Linked DNA regions of Homo sapiens. The protein of the gene in region 7 interacts with the protein of the main gene of each other region in a biochemical or structural test. Each region holds a gene or a part of one and is shown on either strand. Other genes may lie near its edges.

What was found.
Region 1: the proteins of MDC1 (region 7) and RAD51 form a complex in vitro, tested with the Homo sapiens proteins (one study listed by BioGRID and IntAct).
Region 2: the proteins of MDC1 (region 7) and CHEK2 form a complex in vitro, tested with the Homo sapiens proteins (one study listed by BioGRID).
Region 3: of the proteins of MDC1 (region 7) and CASP3, one has a biochemical effect on the other in vitro, tested with the Homo sapiens proteins (one study listed by BioGRID).
Region 4: the proteins of MDC1 (region 7) and NCL form a complex in vitro, tested with the Homo sapiens proteins (one study listed by BioGRID).
Region 5: the proteins of MDC1 (region 7) and USP13 form a complex in vitro, tested with the Homo sapiens proteins (one study listed by BioGRID).
Region 6: the proteins of MDC1 (region 7) and CENPC interact in a test that uses a peptide from one of them, tested with the Homo sapiens proteins (one study listed by BioGRID).

Annotation. Positions count from the first base shown.
Region 1 is NC_000015.10:40,697,867-40,702,103, forward strand, and holds part of RAD51 (DNA repair protein RAD51 homolog 1), read left to right. Parts: intron 1-890; coding exon of another isoform or gene 891-892; coding exon 893-979; intron 980-3,197; coding exon 3,198-3,335; intron 3,336-3,939; coding exon of another isoform or gene 3,940-4,060; intron 4,061-4,237.
Region 2 is NC_000022.11:28,739,021-28,743,017, reverse strand, and holds the start of CHEK2 (serine/threonine-protein kinase Chk2), read left to right. Parts: upstream 1-1,197; 5' UTR 1,198-1,249; intron 1,250-3,997. Other genes in the region: iron-sulfur cluster co-chaperone protein HscB isoform 1 precursor, read right to left, coding at 687-922. UniProt on the Homo sapiens protein: Serine/threonine-protein kinase which is required for checkpoint-mediated cell cycle arrest, activation of DNA repair and apoptosis in response to the presence of DNA double-strand breaks.
Region 3 is NC_000004.12:184,626,755-184,630,117, reverse strand, and holds the end of CASP3 (caspase-3 isoform a preproprotein), read left to right. Parts: intron 1-616; coding exon 617-846; 3' UTR 847-2,422; downstream 2,423-3,363. UniProt on the Homo sapiens protein: Thiol protease that acts as a major effector caspase involved in the execution phase of apoptosis. Following cleavage and activation by initiator caspases (CASP8, CASP9 and/or CASP10), mediates execution of apoptosis by catalyzing cleavage of many proteins.
Region 4 is NC_000002.12:231,457,754-231,461,990, reverse strand, and holds part of NCL (nucleolin), read left to right. Parts: coding exon 1-451; intron 452-1,124; coding exon 1,125-1,322; intron 1,323-1,426; coding exon 1,427-1,513; intron 1,514-1,548; exon of another isoform or gene 1,549-1,623; intron 1,624-1,697; coding exon 1,698-1,839; intron 1,840-2,865; coding exon 2,866-2,990; intron 2,991-3,601; coding exon 3,602-3,725; intron 3,726-4,190; coding exon 4,191-4,237. UniProt on the Homo sapiens protein: Nucleolin is the major nucleolar protein of growing eukaryotic cells. It is found associated with intranucleolar chromatin and pre-ribosomal particles. It induces chromatin decondensation by binding to histone H1.
Region 5 is NC_000003.12:179,781,303-179,785,539, forward strand, and holds part of USP13 (ubiquitin carboxyl-terminal hydrolase 13), read left to right. Parts: intron 1-436; coding exon 437-521; intron 522-2,745; coding exon 2,746-2,839; 3' UTR 2,840-4,237. UniProt on the Homo sapiens protein: Deubiquitinase that mediates deubiquitination of target proteins such as BECN1, MITF, SKP2 and USP10 and is involved in various processes such as autophagy, endoplasmic reticulum-associated degradation (ERAD), cell cycle progression or DNA damage response.
Region 6 is NC_000004.12:67,538,780-67,543,016, reverse strand, and holds part of CENPC (centromere protein C), read left to right. Parts: intron 1-1,966; coding exon 1,967-2,037; intron 2,038-3,082; coding exon 3,083-3,177; intron 3,178-4,237. UniProt on the Homo sapiens protein: Component of the CENPA-NAC (nucleosome-associated) complex, a complex that plays a central role in assembly of kinetochore proteins, mitotic progression and chromosome segregation.
Region 7 is NC_000006.12:30,703,222-30,707,450, forward strand, and holds part of MDC1 (mediator of DNA damage checkpoint protein 1), read right to left. Parts: coding exon 4,163-4,229; intron 2,878-4,162; coding exon 400-2,877; intron 317-399; coding exon 197-316; intron 66-196; coding exon 1-65. UniProt on the Homo sapiens protein: Histone reader protein required for checkpoint-mediated cell cycle arrest in response to DNA damage within both the S phase and G2/M phases of the cell cycle.

The DNA.
Region 1 (4,237 bases), on a different chromosome or scaffold from region 7:
TACATATATACATTGTATAATGAATGATCAAATCAGGGTAATCAGCATATCCATCAGTTCACTTAAACACTTGTCATTTCTCTTTGTGATGAGAACATTCAAAATACTCGCTTCTGGCTATTTTGAAGTATACATTACATTAGTGTTTACTGTAGTCACCCTACTGTGAAATAGAACCCTAGAACTTATTCCTCCTATCTAACTGAAACTTTGTGCCTGTTGACCAACCTCTCTCCTTCCTGCCGCCCCCTGCAACAGCTGCATTCTCCTCAGTCTCTGGTTACCACTGTTCTATTTGTTCCTTGTATGAGATGAACTTTTTTTTTTTTGTTTTTTTTTTTGAGACACAGTCTCACTCTGTCATGAGGCTGGAGTACAGTGGCACGATCTCGGCTCACTGCGATCTCTGTCTTCCGGGTTGAAGCCATTTACCTGCCTCAGCCTCCCGAGTAGCTGGGACTACAGGCGTGTGCCACCACACCCTGCTAATATTTGTATTTTTAGTAGGGACGGGGTTTCGCATGTTGGCCGGGATGGTCTTGATCTCCTGACCTGGTGATCTGCCCGCCTCGGCCTCCCAAAGTGCTGGGATCACAGGCATGAGCCACCGCGCCCCGCCAAGATCAACTTTTTTAGATTCTACATATGAGTGAGATCATGCAGTATTTGTCTGCAAACACATTTATAATGTATAATGGGGTATATAAAAATAAGTAAAACTTGGCCCCTACACTGAAGGAATATAAAGCAGGAGAACAGAGAGGCACAATAAGAGAATGGCCTTGGCTTTTCCTAAAGTCTTTTTGATACGACTAGCTAGATAGAAGATGGGGAGAGAGATGCACCTTATTTCTCTAGTGTTTATACTGATAAGCATTTGTATTTTTCAGTAATGGCAATGCAGATGCAGCTTGAAGCAAATGCAGATACTTCAGTGGAAGAAGAAAGCTTTGGCCCACAACCCATTTCACGGTTAGAGGTATGTGGTTAGTTGCTAATTTTGGAATTATATACTAGATTCTTCTACCTAGTGGAAGGTATTACAACCTTTACATAAAATATAGGTTTACTACCAAGGTCAAGACCCAAATTAGACTTTTCAGAAGTGTTGTCAATAATCCTGTGGAAAGGCTGCAGATCATTGCTAAATATGTCTGGCAGGGCCTCTTCCTTTGTCAACAATTCTCTTCCTACTTTATCATTTTTATTTCTGAGAGTTGGACTGTCAGAAACTAAGGCCTAGGATCCCATGGTGGAATCTCTGTGCTGTTTTTGTTTGTTTGTTTGTTTGTTTTTGATGGAGTTTCGCTCTTGTTGCCCAGGCTGGAGTGCAATGGCGTGATCTCGGCTCACCGCAACCTCTGCGTCCCAGGTTCAAGCGATTCTCCTGCCTCAGCCTCCCAAGTAGCTGGAATTACAGGCATGAGCCACCACACCCAGCTAATTTTATATTTTTAGTAGAGACAGGGTTTCTCCATGTTGGTCAGGCTAGTCTCGAACTCCTGACCTCAGGTGATCCACCCTCTTTGGCCTCCCAAAGTGCTGGGATTACAGGCATGGGCCACTGCGCCCAGCCTGTGCTGTTTTTTTGTTTGTTTTTTAAGAAATGGGTCTTAACTGTGTTGACCATGTTGATCTTGAACTCCTGGCCTCAAGCAGTCCACCTGCCTTGGCGTCCCAAACTGCTAGGATTACAGGCATGAGCCACCATGCCTGGCCAAAGCATCCTGTGCTATTTGCACTAAGTATGAAAGTGCTGTTCTGGGAATTATAGCGGCCTGGACCAGTTATGCAAGGAAGACAGGGAAGCACCTTCTCTCCATTAACCTAGATTTGTGCTGTCAGCTGTCATTGGCAGAGAGAAGGGTGTGGTGGTGTTATGGTATAAGAGACAAGCTCCAATTCAGGATTCTGCACAAGAACATTAAGCACCAGAGCTGAGGCCTTACACTATTTCTGCCCATTGTATAGAGACTGCCCTGTGAGTGCAGCTGATTTGGGCTAAGTAGGAGGAAAGCAGAGAAAGACTTGATTCTTCTGTCTCTTTTTTTCATATTTCCCATCTCTGACTAATCTTCAAGACTCTAGAAGTTAGGAGTGCAAAAGGCTAATAAAAAAAAAAGACTCTAGAAGTTACTTAAATGGATTTGTGATAAACATTTGAAAGTTCAGAGTCATAACTTCTGGTGCCATGAGCATCCTTATACTCAAACATGCATATTGCTTAAATATTAATAGCAGACATGGCTTATGTTGGCAAACTAATCTCTCCCCTCTTCTAAATTCTCCCAACCCCTGAATGCACCCACATTCACCTACTAACTCATGTTTTCCCAGAAGTCATGGTTTTGGTGGCTAATGAAACCAAAGCTGACTTGAATATAGGAAGAAAGAGGTGTCTTTGGGTGGTTTGTTTTGAGAAGAGGTATAAAAGTCCCTGACAAAAAGTAGTTTTCCTCACTGTTAATGTCAGTTGTTAGAGCAGAGCTTTCTGGTCATTGTTCAACAAAAAGTATTGACAGGCCAAGATAGTGCTCTTTATATTCTGAGCAGCCTTATCTATTTACCCTACCATAGTGTAAAAATACAGTTTTTTATGTGTGCTTGATGTGGAAAGTGTTGAGCAACACTGTCTTAAAGTGGTCTTGTAGGGCCCAAGGTCTCAGAGATCATTTAGGGTCACAAAAAAAGGTTGGGAGTTACTTTTTAATTCCAATTGCTAATAGGAGTTCTTTTTAATGTACATGGCTTAGTGCTAGTTTAAAATTATTGATTTTGATAATGAAAAGGTTGTTAATTTGTTATTAAGTACCTCATATATAGGGCTCATTTTTCAGCTTTTGCATATAATAACAGTAGGCTCTCTGTATCTCCGGATTCTGTATCAGCAAATTCAACAAACTACGTATCAAAAATTCAATCAACTACATATCAAAAAAAAGTATACAGGAGGATGTACATAGGTTATATGCAGGTAATACGCCATTTTATATAAGGGACTTGAGCATTGTTGGATTTTGTTATCTGCTGGGGGTCCTGGAACCAACTTCCCATCTCCCCCCGCCCCCCCAAGGATTTCAAGGGACAGTTGTATTACAAGTCTTCAAGCACCTCTGTGAAGTATGTAGGACACATAACATCTGTGTTAGATTAGAGAACTAAAGCTTAAATTTATCCATGGTTTTCTTCATTTGCAGCAGTGTGGCATAAATGCCAACGATGTGAAGAAATTGGAAGAAGCTGGATTCCATACTGTGGAGGCTGTTGCCTATGCGCCAAAGAAGGAGCTAATAAATATTAAGGGAATTAGTGAAGCCAAAGCTGATAAAATTCTGGTAAGTACTGCTTACTTAACCTAGGGAGGCATTAGTGGGAATAGTACAAAAGGGAATGTAGTGAAAGACTTCTTCCTTCTATCTCTTATTCTTCGGTCATCTCATTATCCTTTCCAGGGGTGACTGTTACCTGTTTCTTTTCTTCTTTTCTTTTCTTTTCTTTTTTTTTTCTTTCTTTTTTTTTTTTTTTGGAGACGGGTTCTCGCTCTGTCACACAGGGTGGAGTGCAGTGGTGCCATCTCAGCTCACTGCAACCTTCACCTCCCAAGCTCAAGCGATCCTCTCACCTCAGCCTCCCAAGTAGCTGGGACTACACTACAGGCACATGCCACCATGCCGGGGTAGTCTCGAACTCCTGAGCTCAGGCGATTCACCTACCTCAGCCTCCCAAAGTGCTGGATTATAGGTGTGAGCTACTGTGCCTGGCCTATTTATTTTTCTAGCTTCATATAGTTCTTTAACATACATACTTCCCCATGGTTACATTTTGTTTTATGAACCTATTTCTTCAGTGTTTATATAGTTACACAGTTTTATTGCCTTTACCCTTGAAGTTTTATGTAGTATAAAGCAGATTTTTTTTTTTTTTTTTTTTTTTTTTGAGACGGAGTCTCGCTCTGTTGCCAGGCTGGAGTGCAATAGCGTGATCTTGGTCTACTGCACCCTCCGCCTCTCAGGTTCAAGTGATTCTCCTGCCTCAGCCTCCCGAGTAGTTGGGACTACAGGTATGTGCCACCACACCCAGCTAATTTTTGTATTTTTATTAGAGACAGGGTTTCACCACGTTGGCCAGGATGGTCTCGATCTCCTGACCTTGTGATCTGCCCACCTCAGCCTCCTAAAGTGCTGGGATTACAGGTGTGAGCCACCGCGCCCCACCGCAAATATTTATTTATAAAATT
Region 2 (3,997 bases), on a different chromosome or scaffold from region 7:
CCTTCATCCCTGTCTCTCCCGGTTTATTTTAATTCAGCCCCTTTCACATTCTACTCCCAGAGTCTGTCCTATTTCCTTACCAGTTCAGCTCTATCCACACTGCCCCGTCTCTCCAAGAACCTCAGTCTCAGGGGGAAAAACCATTTATTGGACCCTCTCCCTCCAATTCTCACTTTTCCCTCAGGCCTCGCCCACAATATTAAGCTTTTCATGCTTTACTCCCTAATCTCGGATCACACTTCTGCAGTCCTTTCTTAAATACATCAACCCAACTTTAAACCTTACTCACCCTATTCATTCAAGTCTTCCAGTCTCCCAGGCCCTGCCCCTCAAGTACCCTTTCCTCAAGTTCCGCCCCTCGACTTCTCCTTCCCTTTCCCGTAGGTACCGCCCCTCAAATCTCCCTCCCCTCTAGCCTCGGCCCCCCTATTTCCTCTAACTTCAGCGCCCGCCCCTCCAGTCCCGTTCGTCTCCCTTCTCCACACCTCAACGTTGCTTCCCTCAGTCCCCGCCTCTCAATTTCCTCCTGAGAAATCAAGACACTTCTCTCACGCCTGCTCTCTAGACCTCCGCCCCCCCATCAGTCCCGCCTTCTCTTCCGCCAGCCAGATCCGTCCTCCCCTCTCGCAGGCCAGACCTCGACGTGTCTCTCGCCCGGGCCCGTTTCCCGAAACCGTCGCTCGTACCAGTCCATAAGGCTGAAGTAGTCTCGAGTGGGGTCAGGTGCCTGCAGCGCTCGGCACTGTGGGCAGAAGAACCTGTCCTCCCGCCCGGGGCCCCATGGGCCGCCGCAGTTCCAACAGCGGGGATAATTGCTTCCCGCCTGCGACGCAGCATCGCAGCTTAGCGGTCTCCTTCTGGGAACCCCTGTCGGCCAAAACCCCCACACCCGGAGCAAAGCCCCGGCTCTCCCCCGCCACATCTGGCCGGCGGCCTATCTAGCCGTGGTCACTCGTGGGGAAAAGCAAAGAGAGCGTCTAACCAGACTAATGTTGCTGATTGGCTGGGGAGTCGAGGGGGCGGGATCACCCGAGGGGAACCCGGGTTCTAAGTTCCGCTCTCCCTTCTAAACTACAACTCCCAGGAGGCATTGAGGCGGCGCCTGACGGCCACATCTGCTGCTCCTCATTGGTCCGGCGGCAGGGGAGGGGGTTTTGATTGGCTGAGGGTGGAGTTTGTATCTGCAGGTTTAGCGCCACTCTGCTGGCTGAGGCTGCGGAGAGTGTGCGGCTCCAGGTGGGCTCACGCGGTGAGTCATATGGGGAACTTCTGTTGGGTGTTTGGTGGTTCGAATCCCATCTTAAGCGTTTTGTGCGAACGGAGTCTCCTGAGCTTCGCTTTGTCTGTAGTTTTGAGCTGAAGGGGGAGTGTGTGGGCGACTCTCTTCCTTTTCAGTAGATCATCCTCGAGGTGAAGTTCACTTCCCGTATTACTTGCAAGCTGAAACAGGCCTGAACATACAGGATAAGAAGAACAGCGTTGTATTCTTCAATATCAGAGCGAAGTGACTTCGTAAAAATTCTATAGATGTTAGAAATCGTTGCCATTCTTTAGGTTCAATCTATAAAATACTTATAGAGAAGCCAGTCTTAGCTACTGGGCGCTGCAGGGACTGGAAACGCACTGAGCTGTGTAGGAGGATGTTCTGCGTGTCCCTAAATAAGTCCCTAAGTAAATGTATGGGATAGGGTGGCCAGAAGTGGGTAGGAGGGCATCAGTCCTCCTTCGGACTTAGGTTTTCTGCTTGAAAAAAATATTGTGTTTCACTTGAAAGACCTCTGGAATTTTTAAAAAAAATTATTTATTTTTGATATAAAGTATACATATATGATTACCATCTGTACCTTTTTTTTTTTTTTTTTTTTTTTTGAGACGGAGTCTCTCTCTGTTGCCAGGCTGGAGTGCAGTGGCGCGATCTGGGCTCACTGCAACTTCTGCCTCCTGGGTTCAAGCGATTCTCCTGCCTCAGCCTCCTAAGTATCTGGGATTATAGGTACCCGCCACCATGCCCGGCTAGTATTTTTAGTAGAGACGAGGTTTCACCATGTTGGCCAGGCTGATCCCGAACTCCTGACCTCAGGTGATCCACCTGCCTTGGCCTCCCAAAGTGCTGGGATTACAGGTGTGAGCCACCGCGCCCGGCCTATTTTCAATTTTTTGAGGAATCACAATACTCTTCTCTATAGTGGCTATACTAATTTGCATTCCCACCAGTGGTGTATGTGAACAGTGCAAGGTCAGACATAACCAGGTCCATGCACATTTGTGTCTTTCCACAAGATCAGACTTATTGATGTTTTATTTTAATTGTAAAAGCCACGAGCTATATGGAGTTCCCAAGGAAGCAATTTTCCGTAGTACTCCCTGTTTACTTGGTGGTCAGAGCCATGGGCACACAGGCTCAAGCCATTCCACAAGTCAGTCAGTATTGTAAACCGTACACAATAGTATATTTATTTAATATGTAAATGTTATAGATTAAAAATCTTACATTAAAGTAACATTTAACATTCGGAGAAAAGGGGATAGGGAAAGTGGTTATCAAACCAGTCCAAGGAGAGCAATGTGGACAAAGAGAGTGTTTTGGCTTTATCTGGGGTGTCAGTGTCTTGTAAGGAAGAGTTTTTGATGCGGGCAGAGCCTTTGATGGCGGATACTGGGTGTTAATCATGAGTGACAGCAAGATGGTGTCTGTTAGGACAGCCATTTTGACCTAATAAAGTCCTGCTCTTATGACCAAAGAATTTTCTTGTGAGGACTAATAACAAAAGCGTGTACATATTTATATCCTTATCTGGTTTAGTACAGTGTTTTTTTTGAGACAGAGTCTCGCTTTGTCACCAGGCTGGAGTGCAGTGGTGCGATCTCGGCTCACTGCAACCTCCGACTCCCTGGTTCAAGCGATTCGCCTGCCTCAGCCTCCCGAGTAGCTGGGACTACAGGCACGCGCCACCATGCCCAGCTAAGTTTCGTATTTTTAGTAGAGTTGGGGTTTCACCATGTCGACCAGGATGGTCTCCATCTCCTGACCTTGTGATCCGCCCGCCTTGGCCTCCCAAAGTGCTGAGATTACAGGCGTGAGCCACTGTACATGGCCAGTACAGTCTTTATTAATTAGACAAACATCTGGTCCCTGTTGGCATAATGCCTTTTAAAATATAAGATAGAGCCTTTTTCTAAGATAAAATTACTTATGTCAAGAGCACTCTATACAGTTCCCCTTTCTGCACATTCTTTCCAGCATCTGTTTTGCCTATCTTTTATACAAACCATTTTAACTTGGGTGAGATGGTATCTCATTGTGGGTTTTTTTGTTTGTTTGTTTGTTTGAGACAGAGTCTTACTCTGTCGCCCAGGCTGGAATGCAGTGGCGCGATTTTGGCTCACTGCCTCCTCTGCCTCCCGGGTTCAAGAGATTCTCCTGCCTCAGCCTCCCAAGTAGCTGGGATTATAGACGCCTGCCACCATGCCCAGCTAATTTTCATATTTTTAGTGGAGACAGGTTTCACCATGTTGGCCAGGCTGGTCTCAAACTCCTGACCCCAAGTGATCTGCCCGCCTCCGCCTCCCAAAGTGCTGGGATTACAGGCATGAGCCACTGCACCCGGGCCTCACTGTAGTTTTGATTTATATTTCTCCAGTGATCAGTGATGTTGAGCATTTTTTTAATATACCTGTTGGCCATTTGTATGTCTTCTTTCGAGAAATGTCTTTTCGGATCTTTTGCCCATTTCTTTTTTTTGAGACAGAATCTCACTCTGTCACCTAGCCTCGAGTGCAGTGGTGCGATCTCGGCTCACTGCAACCTCCGTCTCCGTCTCCTGAGTTCAAGTGATTCTCGTGTCTCAGCCTACCAAGTAGCTGGGATTACAGGCACGGGCCACCATGCCCAGCTAATTTTTTGTATTTTTAGTAGAGATGTGGTTTTGCCATGTTGACCAGGCTGGTCTTGAACTCCTGACCTCAGATGATTCACCCACCTTGGCCTCCCAAAGTG
Region 3 (3,363 bases), on a different chromosome or scaffold from region 7:
TTTTAAAATATGCTCAATATGGTTTATCTTATCCTCTAGGCATCTTTCCAAGCAAAGTACCTCTAAGTTAAAAGCAATGGGTCTAATAGTTAACCTAGAAAAAAAAGTATGATAAATATACTATTTTCCCTTTTTGGACCAATACTTGGTAGTGTGTTTATTATACTTTATTCAGATGCTCTGTAGACAAGTAGGACACTCAAAGCAATTTGTTTCTTGGCTAAGTCAGTATTAAAATAAGGTGAAATCTGATTGGAACACTGTGCTACTTACAATGATCCTTTTTATACATCTTTACTTTTGCATCTTACCTTCTGCGTGTTTGCTCTTCTTGCCTATTGAAAGGGGAGTCCAGAAAGTAAAACTTTCAATAATTCAGTGTTCGTGAAGCTGGTCCCCGGCCAGCTTTGCTGAAAGCAGGGGGTGTACGCATAGCACACATTCGTCCTTCAGCATCATTTCTTCTGAAACCAAAGGTGTCTTTTTTTTTTTATTTGTATGACTAATAAGACTTATGTAAGTTTATGCTTATTTTTGCCTTTATGACTACATAATAATTTATAGAATCAACTAAAATCAGCTATCCATGGTATTTTGCTTGTATTTTGCCTTTTAGGTTATTATTCTTGGCGAAATTCAAAGGATGGCTCCTGGTTCATCCAGTCGCTTTGTGCCATGCTGAAACAGTATGCCGACAAGCTTGAATTTATGCACATTCTTACCCGGGTTAACCGAAAGGTGGCAACAGAATTTGAGTCCTTTTCCTTTGACGCTACTTTTCATGCAAAGAAACAGATTCCATGTATTGTTTCCATGCTCACAAAAGAACTCTATTTTTATCACTAAAGAAATGGTTGGTTGGTGGTTTTTTTTAGTTTGTATGCCAAGTGAGAAGATGGTATATTTGGTACTGTATTTCCCTCTCATTTTGACCTACTCTCATGCTGCAGAGGGTACTTTAAGACATACTCCTTCCATCAAATAGAACCACTATGAAGCTACCTCAAACTTCCAGTCAGGTAGTTGCAATTGAATTAAATTAGGAATAAATAAAAATGGATACTGGTGCAGTCATTATGAGAGGCAATGATTGTTAATTTACAGCTTTCATGATTAGCAAGTTACAGTGATGCTGTGCTATGAATTTTCAAGTAATTGTGAAAAAGTTAAACATTGAAGTAATGAATTTTTATGATATTCCCCCCACTTAAGACTGTGTATTCTAGTTTTGTCAAACTGTAGAAATGATGATGTGGAAGAACTTAGGCATCTGTGGGCATGGTCAAAGGCTCAAACCTTTATTTTAGAATTGATATACACGGATGACTTAACTGCATTTTTAGACCATTTATCTGGGATTATGGTTTTGTGATGTTTGTCCTGAACACTTTTGTTGTAAAAAAATAATAATAATGTTTAATATTGAGAAAGAAACTAATATTTTATGTGAGAGAAAGTGTGAGCAAACTAACTTGACTTTTAAGGCTAAAACTTAACATTCATAGAGGGGTGGAGTTTTAACTGTAAGGTGCTACAATGCCCCTGGATCTACCAGCATAAATATCTTCTGATTTGTCCCTATGCATATCAGTTGAGCTTCATATACCAGCAATATATCTGAAGAGCTATTATATAAAAACCCCAAACTGTTGATTATTAGCCAGGTAATGTGAATAAATTCTATAGGAACATATGAAAATACAACTTAAATAATAAACAGTGGAATATAAGGAAAGCAATAAATGAATGGGCTGAGCTGCCTGTAACTTGAGAGTAGATGGTTTGAGCCTGAGCAGAGACATGACTCAGCCTGTTCCATGAAGGCAGAGCCATGGACCACGCAGGAAGGGCCTACAGCCCATTTCTCCATACGCACTGGTATGTGTGGATGATGCTGCCAGGGCGCCATCGCCAAGTAAGAAAGTGAAGCAAATCAGAAACTTGTGAAGTGGAAATGTTCTAAAGGTGGTGAGGCAATAAAAATCATAGTACTCTTTGTAGCAAAATTCTTAAGTATGTTATTTTCTGTTGAAGTTTACAATCAAAGGAAAATAGTAATGTTTTATACTGTTTACTGAAAGAAAAAGACCTATGAGCACATAGGACTCTAGACGGCATCCAGCCGGAGGCCAGAGCTGAGCCCTCAGCCCGGGAGGCAGGCTCCAGGCCTCAGCAGGTGCGGAGCCGTCACTGCACCAAGTCTCACTGGCTGTCAGTATGACATTTCACGGGAGATTTCTTGTTGCTCAAAAAATGAGCTCGCATTTGTCAATGACAGTTTCTTTTTTCTTACTAGACCTGTAACTTTTGTAAATACACATAGCATGTAATGGTATCTTAAAGTGTGTTTCTATGTGACAATTTTGTACAAATTTGTTATTTTCCATTTTTATTTCAAAATATACATTCAAACTTAAAATTACCAATGTCTTTGAGTTTTTTGTTGCTGTTGTTTTTGATGTTGTGCCACTAATTGGAAGTTAAAATGTTTTTAATCAGAAGCTTGATTTGGAAGAGTCAAAGAGGAAGCACCAGAACCCTAGCCTAGTTTTTTGAGGTGGTGGCAGTTAGATCAGGGCAGACAGATCGCTTATGCTTCCCAAGTCCTCGCAGAAGTTCCTGACCCTGAAATGACCACAATGCCAGGAAGATACTTTGTTTGCATAGATCTCAGGCCTTAAATATGACCATATGTGTGAATTTGAAACTTTTTCCACAAGATAAGTGTCTAATGGGAAGAACAACCTAAGAGGATATACAACAAGCCGTTGATGTTTACTGATGGCCTCCTCTGGGCGCTGGGATTTTGACAGAGGAATTTGCTGTCTTTTTACTTCATATGCTTAGAAAAGGAATATAGGAAAGTGGGGTTGTGGGTGGTTTTAAATTTCTTCCAATATTTCTGTAATGAAAATATATTACTTTTAAATCAGAAACAAAATAAATTGTCCTAACTAGGAAAAGGAGACTTCTGTTTCTGAGGAGTAGAGAGTAGCATAAATGAGTTCTTTAAGGCCATATGAAAGCGGTGGTTCTATAGTGTTGAGGAAAATCTGGCTTATTCTAGTCTCCCTGTTAAGTAAAGAGGTTTCAGATACAAAGGAAAAGACCAGCAACCCAATAGGAAAATGAGCCAAGGACATGAACAAACAGTTCACAGAAAAAAGAAAACCCAAATGTCCCTTAAATTCAATAAACAGCTTGATCTGCATCATAATAAGAGAAATGCACATTAAAGTATCTGTCGTCTATCAGACCGGCAAAAACCCCAGTTTGGTGACATATTCTGTTGGCAAGATGTGGGAAATGTATACTCTCCCGTTGGTGGGAGTATGATACGGTAAAATACTCTGTGGAGGGGAA
Region 4 (4,237 bases), on a different chromosome or scaffold from region 7:
AAGGCTGCTGCAACCTCAGCAAAGAAGGTGGTCGTTTCCCCAACAAAAAAGGTTGCAGTTGCCACACCAGCCAAGAAAGCAGCTGTCACTCCAGGCAAAAAGGCAGCAGCAACACCTGCCAAGAAGACAGTTACACCAGCCAAAGCAGTTACCACACCTGGCAAGAAGGGAGCCACACCAGGCAAAGCATTGGTAGCAACTCCTGGTAAGAAGGGTGCTGCCATCCCAGCCAAGGGGGCAAAGAATGGCAAGAATGCCAAGAAGGAAGACAGTGATGAAGAGGAGGATGATGACAGTGAGGAGGATGAGGAGGATGACGAGGACGAGGATGAGGATGAAGATGAAATTGAACCAGCAGCGATGAAAGCAGCAGCTGCTGCCCCTGCCTCAGAGGATGAGGACGATGAGGATGACGAAGATGATGAGGATGACGATGACGATGAGGAAGATGGTAAGGAGTTGTCTTGGTAGTTACTGGGCTTCTGATTACAAGGTATCTTGAGATTCTGGGATCAACATATTCCTTCCACGACAACCTGGAGATGAGATTAGAATCCTTGTGGGAATTCTCTGGGTTGTTGTGGTGTGCTAGACTTAATTACCCATGAATGATTTTTGTGCCTCTTGAGAAAATTTCAATAGCACATTCTATTAGTGTTTTTTATAATGTAGGATTTTGTTTCTAAGTGATTTTTTTTTTTTTTAAATTTTTTTGAGATGGAGCTTTTGCTGTTTCCCAGGCTGGAGTGCAATGGCGCGCTATCTCGGCTCACTGCAGCCTCCATCTCCTGGGTTCAAGCAGTTCTGCCTCAGCCTCCCGAGTAGCTGGGATTACAGGTGCCCACCACCACACCCTACTAATTTTTGTATTTTTAGTAGAGACGACATTTCACCATGTTGGCCAGGCTGGTCTCGAACTTTTGACCTCAGGTGATCCACCCACCTTGGTCTCCCAAAGTGCTAGGATTACAGGCGTGAGCCACTGCGCCCGGCCCCAAGTGATCTATTCTTGCCATGACTGTTAACTAAACATGGTGACAGGATTGCATTTTCTTTACATTAGATTTGAAAACCGATGTTGGTTTTGGGAGATTGCTGCAATTTTTAGGTGACTTCTCTTTCAGACTCTGAAGAAGAAGCTATGGAGACTACACCAGCCAAAGGAAAGAAAGCTGCAAAAGTTGTTCCTGTGAAAGCCAAGAACGTGGCTGAGGATGAAGATGAAGAAGAGGATGATGAGGACGAGGATGACGACGACGACGAAGATGATGAAGATGATGATGATGAAGATGATGAGGAGGAGGAAGAAGAGGAGGAGGAAGGTACTTAAATTAGATTCTGACATACGACATGAGTTATGTTTAAAGGAGGCACTTAAGTGTTTGTGGCTACTGATGTGTGATACATTGTTTGACATCTTGTCCAGAGCCTGTCAAAGAAGCACCTGGAAAACGAAAGAAGGAAATGGCCAAACAGAAAGCAGCTCCTGAAGCCAAGAAACAGAAAGTGGAAGGTAACTTGCAGAATTAGGGGATATGGGGGAGATAAACAGCACAAATGATGAATAACAAAGGGACTTAATACTGAAACCTGATGTTACATTGTAGTGTGCTGATGTGCTGTGTATAGAAATTTTGCTTTGGAAACTAACTTTTTACCACACTACAAGTAGACTGAGTTGAGCTTTTTTTGTGCAGGCACAGAACCGACTACGGCTTTCAATCTCTTTGTTGGAAACCTAAACTTTAACAAATCTGCTCCTGAATTAAAAACTGGTATCAGCGATGTTTTTGCTAAAAATGATCTTGCTGTTGTGGATGTCAGAATTGGTATGACTAGGTAAGTGCTTCACTGCACGTTACATACACGTGGGTCTGTTAATGCTTTTCCTTCCCCTGTTAGCACAGTTACTTTAGCCTGCTACTGTTAAACATGAATACTGTAAACATCTTCAAGGATTAGCATTAGTGAACTAAGTTAGAATTAAACTGTAGATCCCCTAAGTTGCAATTTCCATAATCAGTCGTAACTTGGTATAGCACAGAATAATTTTTAGTAAGTTTTTTTGTTGTTTTTGTTATGTATTGAGACGGACGCTGGCTTTTGCTCAGGCTGGAGTACAGTGGCGCAATCTTGGCTCACTGCAACCTCTGCCTCCCGGGTTCAAGCGATTCTCCTGCCTAAGCCTCCCAAGTAGCTGGGATTACGGGTGCACTTCACCATGCCTGGCTAATTTTTGTATTTTTAGTTGAGATGGCATTTCACCATGTTGGTCAGGCTGGTTTTGAACTCCTGACCTCAAGTGATCCACCCACCTCGGCCTCTCGAAGTGCTGGGATTACAGGCGTGAGCCACCCTGCCAGTAAGTTTTAATAATTTGGTGTTAGGTGGGAGAATCGCTTGAACCTGGGAGGCAGAGGTTGCAGTGAGCCAAGTTCGCGCCACTGTACTCCAGCCTGGGCAACAGATTGAGACACCGTCTCAATTTAAAATAATGTTTATTTTCTTGGAAGTACCTGAAACTATTAGACCTGTCTAGTCATCATAGTGAATACTTTTATCCAGACAGGATTCTCCTGTATTAGTGCTTATAGGTGTTCTTTTGTCAGCTGCTACTGTGAATTCTTATAAGCAATTTAGCTCCATGATGAAGACCTCAAACGTGAATGTGCATGTCATATCTTCATGCTGAGACCTTGTTCTGTAGCTGCAGTTTGCAGAGCCTTGACTTTGTTTTGCTAATACTAGGGGTGCTTTTTAAAATGTGATCTTTGTTTGCACCATCACATTTGTCTAGAATACATATTGTGGATTTTGATTTGTGTTTTCACCTGTTGTAATTTTGCCCTCCTCTCCACCTTGAAGGAAATTTGGTTATGTGGATTTTGAATCTGCTGAAGACCTGGAGAAAGCGTTGGAACTCACTGGTTTGAAAGTCTTTGGCAATGAAATTAAACTAGAGAAACCAAAAGGAAAAGACAGTAAGAAAGGTATGTAAGGCTTTATGAGATTATGCAATGAACTCAGGAGCTAGACTGCTAGGGAAAATGCTTTGTAACCCATTTCCCTTGGTTTCCTCTTATTTTTTTAAATCATTTTTTTCCTTTGGTTTCCTCTTAATGTGGGAATTAAATGAGCTACAGTGTTTACAAGAGTACTTGGCACTGCTTGTCAGTGTTATAGTGTAAATTCCTGAGTTAGGCAAGCAAGAGCACTTTTATACAGAACAAGAATTATTAGATGCACCTAAATTAACGTAAAGGGATCTTTCTTCACTGAAACTAGATTAGGTCCCTAATTACTCCCTATATACAGTTGTAATGTTTTGAATTGGTACATTCACTTTTTTTGTTATGCGCGTCTACTCTAGGTTGAACTCCAGTGTACCTAACAGAGAGTTTGACATCAGCTGTGACAACATGGAGGGACCACTTGTGTGTTGACACTGCTATATCTCCATATTTAGCACCGAGCCTTGTACATTATAGGATCTCAAATTATTTGTTGAATAGAGCTATGTGTGTTTTTCCCCTCTTTTTGTTGTTGCCCCCCACCTTTGGTTTTTCAGGCCACAGAGCTCATTTTTGTTTTTTTAATCTAGAGCGAGATGCGAGAACACTTTTGGCTAAAAATCTCCCTTACAAAGTCACTCAGGATGAATTGAAAGAAGTGTTTGAAGATGCTGCGGAGATCAGATTAGTCAGCAAGGATGGGAAAAGTAAAGGGTATGTTCTGTCTATTGAAATGTAAGGGTTTTATTAACATTAATGCACTTTCCTGCTTTATAAAAGAAATATTGGTTTGATTTCCTTAGGCGTGTAATCTTGGACAGTTTAACCTGTAAGTTTGTGCCTCAGTAACCCATCTGTACCATGGGGATAATGTACTCATAGGGTGATTTTAAAAGACAAGCTAATACTTACAAAGAAGCAAGAAATGTGCCTATCTTACAATAAATACTTTGTAAGTAGTAGCAGTTCTTTCAGTGAGGTGAGGTTACTATGAAAAAATTCCAAGTATTTGTAAAACTAGTGGGAAGTAAGAGGGAAGCTCGAGTTTTGATTGAAAAGTGGCATAAAACTAAGGGCATTTATTGTACTCAGATCTGAAGCAAGTTCTGTGTTGCTGAGGTAAAAGCATTTGTGTTAATATGGTTTTAAAAACCATGAGTTCTTCTCCCTCCATTGCAGGATTGCTTATATTGAATTTAAGACAGAAGCTGATGCAGAGAAAACCT
Region 5 (4,237 bases), on a different chromosome or scaffold from region 7:
TCATTTAAGTTTTATACAACCCTGCGAAGTGGGTGGATTTTTTTTTTTAATCCCCACAAAGAAACAGGCTCAGAAAGAGGAAACAACTTGTCCACCCTCGTGCTATTTGGAAGTGATAGAGCCAGGACTACCCTTTTAGATCCATAAGCTTGCCACCAGACCGGGCTGTGGGATTTTTTAAATCCCTTTCCACATTTGAATTTAACATCAGCTGTGCTTTGATAATTTATGTCCTATTTTTTGATCACAAATTTGCAGGTTGAGTTTAGTGTCCCTCTGAGTATGTGTGTGTTGTCAACATAGCAAGGTAAATAGACCTTGTCTTTCAAATCTAAACAGTTGCTGGATTATACTATGGTTGGTTTTAAATTCTAACCAGAAGTGCTCTTCATTCTGGAAATGCTGCCTTGTAACTGAGTTGTTTCCTCTTTCACAGCATATGAGCTATTTGCATTCATCAGTCACATGGGAACATCCACAATGAGTGGTCATTACATTTGCCATATCAAAAAGGAAGGAAGGTGAGTCATTTTTAGAAGGTAAATGTTAGCTGTGATTTATTGAGTACCTACTATATGCCAGGCACTCTCCTAGGTACATTGTATGTTATCTTATTTGGTTCTCACATTGGTCTTGTAAAGGGTATACTGTTAACGCCCTTTTGCACATCAAGACACCGAGACTCAGGGAGGCTGAATAGCTTGACCTTAGCTAGTAAGTAGCTGTGTGAGAGCTGATATTCAAAGCCACTTTCAACTATCATACCAAGGTGACCTCCCAAAATAAAGATGCATCCTGCAGCAGAATGTATGCTGTAATTGGAACCTCCCTAGGATTGCCATATTTAGCCAACAAAAGGAAACAAGACAGGAAAAACCAGGATGCCCTATTAAATTTGAATTTCAGATAAATAATGAATAATTTTTTAGTATAAATAAATTTCAAATATTCTATGTCCCAAATATTATATGGGGCATGCTTCTACTGAAATTTCTTATTGCTTACCTGATACTCAGATGTAACTGGGTAACCTGTGTTTTATCTGGCAGCTCTAAACCTTCAGTGCTTTGCCTTACTACAGCCTTGCAGTTGGCTTCTCAGCCTTCTTAAGTAGAATTGTTAAGTGTGTAGTGAACCGGAAATGAGACAGTTGTGGAATGAAAGGCTGCTGCTTTCTTCAGAACCTTCTCCCTGGGCTGGATCCCTACAGGACCTACTGGTGCCCTTCCTGCAACTCCAAACTGAGTAGCCTGTGGGTTGGCACTTCTGCTTGAGGGCAGTGCTCAGGCCATGTGGATGCTGGAGAAATGCCTGAGGGTGGCCTCTTGCTCCATGGCTCCCACTGCAGGAGTGGCCATTTCCCACCTGGACTCCATTGTGTTCTTCTGTGGTGTGTCTTTTTAGTTTTGTCTTCTTAACTTGGTAAAATAGTTGAGCACAGGAATTTATCTCTTTTTTTTGAGATGGAGTTTCACTCTTATTGCCCAGGCTGGAGTGCAATGGCACAATCTCAGCTCATTACAACCTCCGCCTCCCAAATTCAAGCAATTCTCCTGCCTCAGTCTCCCAAGTAGCTGGGATTACAGGCATGTGCTATCATGACTGGCTAGTTTTGTATTTTTAGTAGAGATGGGGTTTCACTATGTTGGTCAGGCTGGTCCCAAACTCCTGACCTCAAGTGATCCACCCGCCTTGGCCTCCCAAAGTGCTGAGATTACAGGTGTGAGTCACCGCACCCGGCTGGGACTTAATCTTTGTGGTGAATTGTTTTTATTACAAACACGATAGCGCTTTAAAAAACACTTTATGGAATGAAGTCAAAGAAAATAAAATAAAAATGCTTTTTAAAAGAAAAATAGCTTAATTATAATTTTAAAAGCAATAAAATTCATAGTAAATAATTTATAAATATAAAAATATACAAAGAATATGTACCCTGGAAGCCTAACAATAACCATTGTCTACATTTTGATATACTTTTCTTTGTTTTATTGTCTCACTGGAAGAAAGTATATATATGTCTATATGCACACATACTACATATAAATAAACACACGTATTTACAACTTAACTAAAAGCTTAAAGTATGTGCAGAGTGCATACAATTTTTTAACCAGTAATTTCCCATTTCATATTATATCATGGTTATTTTCTCACTTTGCCAAATATTCTTTGAAGAAATTTTAATAGTTCTATAATAGTTCACTGCATGGATTTTTTTAAAATTCTGGTTTTAAGCTAGTTTTATACTAAGACTGAAATAAGCATTGTTGTACATAATTCTTTGACTCAATTTCTCAGGCTATCTATGGATTTCTATAAAGGGAGTTATGGGATCAAAGGTTAAAATGTTTGGAGGTTCCTGATACATTTTAGTAACTACTTTTTGATGGAGCTTAAGAATCAAAAAGCAGTTGTAGCTGGGTATGATGGCATGTGCCTGTGTTCCCAGCTACTCCAGAGGCTGAAGCGAGAGGATCCCTTGAGCCCAGGAGTTCGAAGCTTCAGATTGTGCTACCTTACTCCAGCCTGGGGAATAGAATGAGGCCTTGTCTCTTAAAAAAAAAAAAAAAAAGCAGTTGTGATTCCCTACCAGCATTCTGTCCCTTTTTATACAACGAACTTGAGTATAGTACCTTAAAACATCATGGTTAAGTGTTGTGCGCCATATGATTTAGTGACTTCTTTGTGTAAAGTTTCCTGGAACTGACTTAAATCCATCAAATGCTTCTGTCTTATTTTCAGATGGGTGATTTACAATGACCACAAAGTTTGTGCCTCAGAAAGGCCCCCTAAAGACCTGGGCTACATGTACTTTTACCGCAGGATACCAAGCTAAACCTCAAATATAAAAATTGGCGAAAAGAAGCCATACGCCTTTTTAATTTGCCAAAAAAAAAAAGAAGAAGAAGAAGTTGAAACAACTAGACATGAAGGAATATATGGGGTATTTATCGTTTATTTAAAGAGCACGATCAGTTGACACCTTCTGAAATAGAACTGAGAAGAAATTTCTATTAGTGATGATACACTATTATATTGTAGATAGTTTTTATAAATGTTCAAAAAGATGATGATATTTAAAAACAAAAAAAGTATTCATATTGCTGGTGGAGGATCTGCCATCAGCACATCAAAAATGGGGATGTGCCCCCAGCCCTCTATTTTGCTTTGGGGGTCAGTGATAGTGGCCTCTGGAGAAACCAAATAATGTGGCCAGTGGTGTGGCCTTACCCACAACAAATGAAAAGCCCACTTGTGTTTCATATAGAAAATCAGCAGTTGGGTGGGGCTTTATTTGTGACATAATTTTTTTCATGACATACAATAATTTCTGATGTATCCATGTAGATATTATGCTCTGTCCATAATAGAGCCTCTGCAATGAAAGATATTTTTAATTTGTCACATTAAAATTCATAATACGATTGTGTGAATGTGTGTGAGACTGACTGAGAGTGTGAGACTTTTACTAGAAAAGTGAGTCCACTAGAAAATCTGTGACAAGTTGGTTTTTAAAGTCTGAACAGTTGATATTAAGCATATCTGAAAAAAGCAAGTAAATATTTTAACAAAACTATGACTCAGGAACCTTCGAGAAGATTAGTTCCCCACTTAGATTTTTAAGGAGTAAAAAGGGCTGAGTTATGCCTTTAAGTGCTGTCAAGAATTCACTTGGGTTTGGGACATTTGCTGGTGTAATGCTAGATGCCCACAGCAGCATAATATTGTACTTTGTCAAAGGTAGGTAAATTCTCTGTTTCTCAGCAGCCCTTTCCCCAAAAGGTATGGTGTTTATTTTTAGTAAAAATAGCTAATCTCTTTTTACCATCTCACATGATAACTCTTTGGAGTCATGTCAAGTGCCCCAAATTTGTCTGTGATTTTCCCATCTCTGAGCTCTTTATCTGCCTCCGTTTCCTTGTTTTTCTGGGGCCAGAGTCTCATCTCTGCCTTTTTTTGGTGTATCACCTTCTGACTTGCCTTCATTGCTTGTCTGATGTGACCAACAGTGTGATCTTGGACACACTAAGGATTTTAGATGCAAAGAAACTTTATACAACATTATGAAAGACTATCCTTTCCATTTTGGTTATTTCAGCATTTTAGTTGCAACCTGGGATTAGATTAGAGTTTCCAACGTGATGAAAAGTGGAATGATAGCATTCTATAATTTCCATAATTTTCCTACTGGTCCGTACCAAATTCTAGAGTCTCTGGAGTTGCTATTTCAGAG
Region 6 (4,237 bases), on a different chromosome or scaffold from region 7:
GTGGAGGTGCTTTTATGCTAAGGTAATAATGACAAAGGGGAAGAAAAGACGAATTTGATAAATTTTGAAAAAGCTGTTGCCTAATGTGACCTGCGTTCTAATAGTGACTCTGCATTATCACCTTGGCAAATCTGATCTTTTTGGATCTCATCCTTGAAACAGGTAATAGCAGGAGTGTATTTATAGCTGTGCAATATGTGCACCTGTAGGTGGTATTTTGGGGTGATGTCAAGGCCAGAATTTATAATAGTCACCTATATATATTCTGGTAGAAAACCGGCCACTAATACTACTTAGGTTTACAAACTGAGGTAGGCCATTTGACCATTTTGGGTTTCAGTTTGCCTATCTGCAAAATGAGGGCATAGGATTCAGCTAGGGGTTTTTAACTAGATTTGCACATCAGAATTACCTCCATCACCCTAGGAAATCTAATTAAATTGGTTTGTGGGAAGTGACCAATTAAGTGTATTTCTGCAAAGCTCCAAAAGTAACTTTACACATCTATTTGGATGATGATTATTGGACTGGATGATTTCTGAGATCTTTCAGTTATAAAACTTTATGATGGATGACCTGATAATGCACTGTGGCTCACAGTTTTTAATTACTGCATATATAGTACTTTTCCAGCTCTCAATAATAGGAATGTTGTAGATCAGGGATCAGTAAACTCTGGCTGATAGGCCAGCCAAATGTTTTGTCACAGGTTTTATTTCAATTTTATTGGAACACAGCCATGCCTCTTTGTTTACATACTGTCTGTGGTTGCTTTTGGGCTAGAATGGGAGAGTCGACTGGTTGTGACAGAGACTATGGTTTACAAGCCTAAAATATTTACCATCTGGCCCTTTAAGCAAAAGTTTGTCCACTCTGTTAGAGATGCATGTCAATTTTATACTGATTGAAATCCAGATGTTCTTCAACAGGTAAATGGTTAAACACTGTGGTACACACATAGCATGGAACATTACTTGACTCTAAAAAGCAATGAAATATTGGTACATTCAACTTGGATTTATTTCCATAGAATTGTGTTGAGTGAAAAAAGCCAAGGCAAGAGGATACATGTTGTATGATTCTATTTACATATAATTGTTTCCACATGACAGAGTTTTAGAAATGGAGGACAGATTAGTGGTTGCCAGAGGTTAGGAATGAGAGGAGGCAGGAAGGAGATGAGAGAAAGGTGGTTATGATTACAAAAGGACAATAGAGGATCTTTGTGATGATGGAACTATTCAGTATCTTGACTCTGGTTGTTTTATCTGCACCTACAGATGTGATACATTTTGTATATATACACACAAACATGAGTATGTTCAGAAATGAGTACATGTAGAACTGGAGAAATCACAATAGCATTGGTAGATTGTATCAATATCAGTATCCTGATTGTGATAATATGCTATAGTTTTGCAAAATATTAGCACTGAGGAGAACTAGGTAAAGTGAACAAGGGGTCTGTATTATGTTGTATAGCTGGCTGTGAATCTACAAGCTCAATATAATTTTTAATTAAAATTTATACTGATTCATAAACTGTTAAGATTAATCAATGATACTGAATTAGAAATGCATTTGAGAATTTATAGGGAGGAATATGTTACTTGGAGATGTGACTGTAAAGTCTGTTAAAGAAGCATTTCAGGACTGATTGGATTCATTCAAAAAAATTTGTGTTTTTGAGATACAGCAGTAATCTAAAACAGCTTTAGACATGGCTGTTCAACTAAGAAATATTAATTGTTAAGGTAGATTATGATATACTAATTCTTATTAGGAAGGAAAGAGTTCACTTGAGGGAATGTATAGACCCTCAAGTACTTGTTTTGTCTTCAAATAGTAAAGATATTTTACATATTAAGTAAATTTATATTTTATAATGAGATGTGGAATTTTCAAAGAGATGGTAATATAAAGAAATATCTTCTGAAAATGACAGGCTGTATTTTTCCTTTATTAGGGCACGTGACATTAACACAGAGCAAGGCCAGAATGTTCTGGAAATCTTACAAGACTGTTTTGAAGAAAAAAGTAAGGCTTCATTTCAAGATGGAATTTAAGGGTTAGATGGATGAAAATATGAATTTGTCATGGTAATTAATATCAAATGCAGCAAATATGTTCTAGGGTTTAAATATATGGAAAATATTTTCCCTGGTATTTTGAGTTCATATGCAATCCTTTGTGTACCTTCTGGTATACTTAGGATAATACTGACAAAAAATAATAATTTGACAATAATTTGTCATCCCGTTTAGTTCACATTAAATTACTGTAATCTGGAAGTCCATACATAATTATCATACACAAGAAAAAGTATTTTATTATTTATTTATTTATTGAGACATAGTCCTGCGGTGTCACCCAAGCTGTAGTACAGTGGTGCTATCTCAACTCACTGCAACCTTTGCCTCCCAGGTTCAAGTGATTCTTGTGCCTCAGCCTTCCAAGTAGCTGGGATTACAGGTGTGTGCCACCACGCCTGGCTAATTTTTGTATTTTTTAGTAGAGACCAGGTTTCACCATGTTGGCTAGTCTGGTCTCGAACTCCTGCCCTCCAGTGATCTGCCCTCTTCAGCCTCCCAAAGTGTTGGGATTACAGGCATAAGCCACTGCATCTAGCCAGAAAAAATATATAATGAAAATAGATGTGTAGAATTCTTGGAATCGCTGGAGAATTTGAGATAATCTTTGGTGATTTACATATCTGTTTAAGGAAGTCATAAATTACAGCAAAAACTTTTCCAAGTGCTGATTAGCATCAGCAGGTATTGGAATAAGAGAATAAGCCAGCCAAAGAAATAGGGGCAGATGATAGAAAAGAATGTTTTCTATACAAGCTCTGAAAGAAGAGCTGGCATATATTGATACTTCAGGTGTTTTGTTTGCTTTTCTCATTTCCTGATGCTTCTCAGGAACATTTGAATATTAAATTGAGGTCTCTACTTGATTTAAGCTAATTGTGGTCAGTGAGTCAACAGATGGTTCTTCACATGTCATATACAGCTACTTTTAATTGTGACTAATAGATATTACACTATATCTTGTTTTTGAAAATTTCATACTTTTGTTTTAGGTCTTGCCAATGATTTTAGTACAAATTCTACAAAATCAGTGCCTAATTCAACACGCAAAATAAAAGACACTTGTATTCAGTCACCAAGCAAAGAGGTAAGTGATAAAGAAGAGCTGGTATAGGTTTAATATTTTAATGAATGAAGGTATACACAATATACTCATGTATATTTTAGTTGTTTGTAAGTCTTATTCTTGAAAGGGAATTCTATATTCCCATTGACTTTCTATAAAATTTGGAGGTATTTTGTGAAAAGTTTTATTTGATATTTTCTGTTGGAATTGGGATTATGGGAATTAGAATTATCAAATTATAATAAACATTTTTCACTTCTCCTAAAATAATACTCAAATTAGGTTTTTAGGAAAATGGGCAGTGATCAAAGTTGCTAATCAGGTTGGCAGGGTTGGTTATATTCTAATAAATGAAGGCACTTCATTGTTATACGGGGAAATCAATCTTCTGTTGATTATATATTTTAATTGCTGTTAGTTTGATCAGAAATAAAGTATTGGTTGACTTAACTATACTAAGTAGCAGACTTTCAAATAAAGTATTTGAAGCTAATCTAAGGCAAATTATTCAAAAGCACAATACTAATTAGAAAAATCATATAGTGCTAGAAGTAACACTTACTAGAAAACTGTAAAAGGCAATCAACATATTAAACATATGTAGCCTTTTGGTTCCAAGCAATGCAGACAAAACCATTTCTTTCAGAATTGAGAGGCCTTCTGAAACTTGATAAATTACAATGGTTTTTGAAAGTTAAAGCAACTTTAGGTTTTCTGGGATAAACTTGACTTGGTCATAAAGTATTAACTTTTTTTGATTAGGTTTGCCTAATATTGAAGATGTTTGCATCTATGTTTATGAATAATATTGTCTTTTTTTGAAAAATGTTCTTACAGGGCTTTGGTATCAAGGTTATGCTAGAGGTTCCTCTTCTAGGTAGAATGCAGTAAGTCACAGAAGGCTAACACTCCTGCTAAAGCAGCTATTTTAAAAAATGGAAACAAATTTTAGATATATGAGAAGCTGTGGAAACAATAAAGACTAGCAAAATATAGTCTGTGGCTAATTTTCTTCCCTTCTGAGGCAAAATTCTTCTCTACTGTGTCCCGTTACTTATGGAGGTTTTCCACTCTGGCTGGT
Region 7 (4,229 bases):
AGACTTCCCCCCAGTGCCAGCACAGCCCGCTCTCCCCGAGCATCCACCACTCCTGTGAAGAGCACCTGTGGAAGGGTTGACCTGAGGTGGTTACGGCAACCCATGCCATCAGCACCCATCTCTACAATCCTCTAGGTCTCCTTGCATCCTCCCCTCATCTCTGTCTCCCACAAAGTCCCATGCCTTTGTCTCTTACTTTGGGGGCTGTTGATTCTTGGTTAAGTTTGGTCCGTCGGAGGCTGCGGCTTGGTATTCTGTTGGGCTCCTCCTCTGCCTGGTCTCTCTTTCTCTTGCCTGGTTTTGGAGTCACGACATCCTGAGATTGAGAAAAATCTTGGTGGGAGTTTCAGAGCCCTGAAGTCATTTTTCCCAGCTTTGTGGTCCCAACCCTCTCCTCACCTCTTCCTTCCCTGGCTTCTCTGCAGTATCTTCTTCCTCTTCCTTGATAATCACTGTCTTCTGGGAGACTTCCCCTCTTTGGGGCTGTTTTTGATGTGGTGGTGAATCCATGGTAGCTAAAGACCTCTTGCGGCTTTGAGAGGCCTTAGGCTGGAGCTCCGGGGTGAACCTAGATCTACCTGCTGGTTCCACCTTTTGGATCTGGGAGGCATGAATTGGTGTCTCAAGAAGCTGGGGAGAGGCAGGCTCAGGAATGGCTGTAAGGGATTCAGCTGCTCTCACTGCTCCCCATCTTTGGTTCCTTGAGGCCTGGGATTTAGGTTCCAAGGGTGCAGAGCAAGGCTTATGGTCAATGGGAGCTGCGAGGGAGCCAGGGTTCCCAGCGGCTCTCTGCCTCTTGATGCAACTGGGTTGAGTAATAGGCTCAGGGGAAATAGGCTGGTCTGTGGTGACAGGAGATTGGAATTCAGGGGTGGTAGGAACCGGCATAGCTCTTACTGTGGAAGACCTCAGTGTTTTGCTCTGACCACCCTGAGCTATGGCCTCAGGGGTGACGGACTGGTCTGTGGGGGTAAAAGGCTCAAGATCAGAGGCTGCTGGTTCAACTGGTTTGGGAGTCTTGACAGAGGACCTATTTGTCTTTCTCCTAGTGGCCCTAGATGTGAGCTTGGGGGTGACAGGCTGGTCTGTGGAGGTGGTAGGATGGGGCTCAGGGGCTGTGGGGACAACTGGCTCAGGGGTCTTGACAGAGGACCTATTTGTCCTGCACCTAGTGGCCCGAGATGTGGGCTCAGGGGTGACAAGCTGGTTTCTGGAGGTGGAAGGCTGAAGCTCAGGGGCTATAGGGACAATTGATTCAGGGGTCTTGACAGAGGACCTATTTGTCCTGCCCCTAGTGGCCCGAGATGTGGGCTCAGGGGTGACAGGTTGGTCTGTGGAGGTGGAAGGCTGGAGCTCAGGGGCTGCGGGCACAACTGTTTCAGGGGTCTTGACAGAGGACCGATTTTTTCTTCCCCTAGTGGTCCGAGATGTGGGCTCAGAGGTGACAGGCTGGTCTGTGGAGGCGGAAGCCTGTAGCTCAGGGGCTGTGGGGACAACTGTTTCAGGAGTCTTGACAGAGGATCTATCTGTTCTTCCCCTAGTAGCCTGAGACGTAGGCTCAGGGGTAACAGGCTGGTCTGTGGAGGTGGAAGGCTGGAGCTCAGGGGCTGTGGGGACAACTGTTTCAGGGGTCTTCACAGAGGACCTATTTGTCCTGCCCCTGGTGGCCTGAGATGTGGGCTCAGGAGTGACAGGTTGGTCTGTGGAAGTGGAAGGCTCGAGCTTAGGGGCTGTGGGGACAAGTGTTTCAGGGGTCTTGCCAGAGGATCTATTTTTTCTTCCCCTAGTAGCCCGAGATGTGGGCTCAGGGGTGACAGGCTGCTCTGTGGAGGTGGAAGGTGGGAGCTCAGGGGCTATAGGGACAGTTGATTCAGGGTTCTTCACAGAGGACATATTTGTCCTGCTCCTAGTGGTCCGAGATGTGGGCTTAGGGGTGACAGGTTGGTCTGTGGAGGTGGAAATCTGGAGCTCAGGGGCTGTGGGGACAACTGTTTCAGGGGTCTTGACAGAGGACATATTTGTCCTGCTCCTAGTGGTCCGAGATGTGGGCTTGGGGGTGACAGGTCGGTCTGTGGAGGTGGAAGGCCGGAGCTCAGGGGCTGTGGGCACAACTGGTTCAGGGGTCTTGACAGAGGATCTATTTTTTCTTCCCCTAGTAGCCTGATATGTGGGCTCAGAAGTGACAGGCTGGTCTGTGGAGGTGGAAGGCTGGAGCTCAGGGGCTGTGGGGACAACTGGTTCAGGGGTCTTGACAGAGGATCTATTTTTTCTTCCCCTAGTAGCCTGAGAGGTGGGTTCAGAGGTGACAGGTCGGTCGGTGGAGGTGGAAGGCTGGAGCTCAAGGGCTGTGGGCACAACTGTTTCAGGGGTCTTGACAGAGGATCTACTTTTTCTTCCCCTAGTAACCTGAGATGTGGGCTCAGAGGTGACAGGCTGGTCTGTGGAGGTGGAAGGCTGGAGCTCAGGGGCTGTGGGGACAACTGGTTCAGGGGTCTTGACAGAGGACCTATTTGTCCTGCTCCTAGTGGCCTGAGATGTGGGCTTGGGAGTGACTGGCTGGGCTGTGGAGGTGGAAGGGTGGGGCTCAGGGGCAGCAGAGGTAGCTGGAAAGGGTGTCATTCTGGAGGACTTCCGAGTTCTAATTTTAGGCTTTGGGTGGAAAGGCTCCAGCTCTGAGGACAAGGGAGCCTCTGGAGCTTCCTGACTCCCATCTTGCCTGGTCTTACGAACGGTTGGCTTGATAGAAGGTAAAAGGGGAGAAAGAAGGGGCGGAGGTGCAAGATGTTTCTGGCTCTGAGAGTTAAGGGGCTTTTGGGGTGGGGCTGGGGCTTCAGGTACTGTAGGAGGCAGACAAGCATCTGGAGATTCCTGATCGCCCTAGGGAGAAACAGAAGCAAGTGAGGGGGAGGAGGTGGAGAAAAGAGATAGAACTTGGATACTGTTCTTGATACTTGTTTATGGTTAGATAGGCTTACCAGATTTCCACCGGGCGTGGTGGCTCACGGCTATAATCCCAGCACTTTGGGAGGCCGAGGCGGGCGGATCACGAGGTCAGGAGTTCAAGACCAGCCTGGCCAACATAGTGAAACCCCGTCTCTACTAAAAATACAAAAAAAAAGGCCAGGCATGGTGGCTGATGCCTGTAATCCCAGCACTTTGGGAGGCCGAGGCGGGTGGATCACAAGGTCAGGAAACCGAGACCATCCTGGCTAACACGGTGAAACCCCGTCTCTACTAAAAAATACAAAAAATTAGCCGGGCGTGGTGGCGGGCGCCTGTAGTCCCAGCTACTTGGAAGGCTGAGGCAGGAGAATGGCGTGAACTCGGGAGGCGGAGCTTGCAGTGAGCCGAGATGGTGCCACTGCACTCCAGCCTGGGGGACAGAGCAAGACTCTGTCTAAAAAAAAAAAAAAAAAAAAAAAAAATTAGCTAGGTGTGTTGGCAGGCGCCTAGTAGTCCCAGCTACCTGGGAGGCTGAGGGAGGAGAGTCGCTTGAACCCGGGAGGCAGAGGTTGCAGTGAGCCAAGATCGCGCCACTGCACTCCAGCCTGGGTGACAGAGTGAGACTGTCTCAAAAAAAACAAAAAAATACACAAAAATTAGCCGGGTGACATGCGCCTGTAGTCCCAGCTACTTGGGAGGCTGCGGCAGGAAAATTGTTTGAACCCAAGAGACGGAGGTTACAGTAAGCTGAGATCACGCCACTGCACACTCCAGCCTGGGTGACAGAGACAGACTCTGTCTCAAAAAAGAACAAAAACAAAAAATATGCTCACTGGATTTTCCTTTCTGTCTATGATCTCTCCTCCATTAGACTGGGATCTACCTGGGAAGCTACCTTTTTCCCACAGACCTGTCTCCATAATGCTACTATAGTGTTCTCCACACGTGGATGATGGTAAGGAAAAGGATGGCTGGGGCAAAGAAAGAAGAAACACGAAGGGTCTTTCTTTTGAGTCAGGTAGGAGATACAACTTAGGAAACAGATATGGAAAACAACGGGTGCCGAGGATAAAGGAATAGAAGCCAATCAAGGCGTGACAAAAATGGAAGAAAACTGAATAATGAGAAAGGAATAGATTAAAGTGAGGCTAGGTGAAAGAGCATTGGAGAAGATATAGAGATGACTTGTGGAATAGGAGGTAGAAAAAGTAGCTCTCACCCTGGAAACCTTCTCAGCAGCTCTGATCCTGGAAGCCTTCTCAGCAGGTGGCATCTTGCAATTCAGG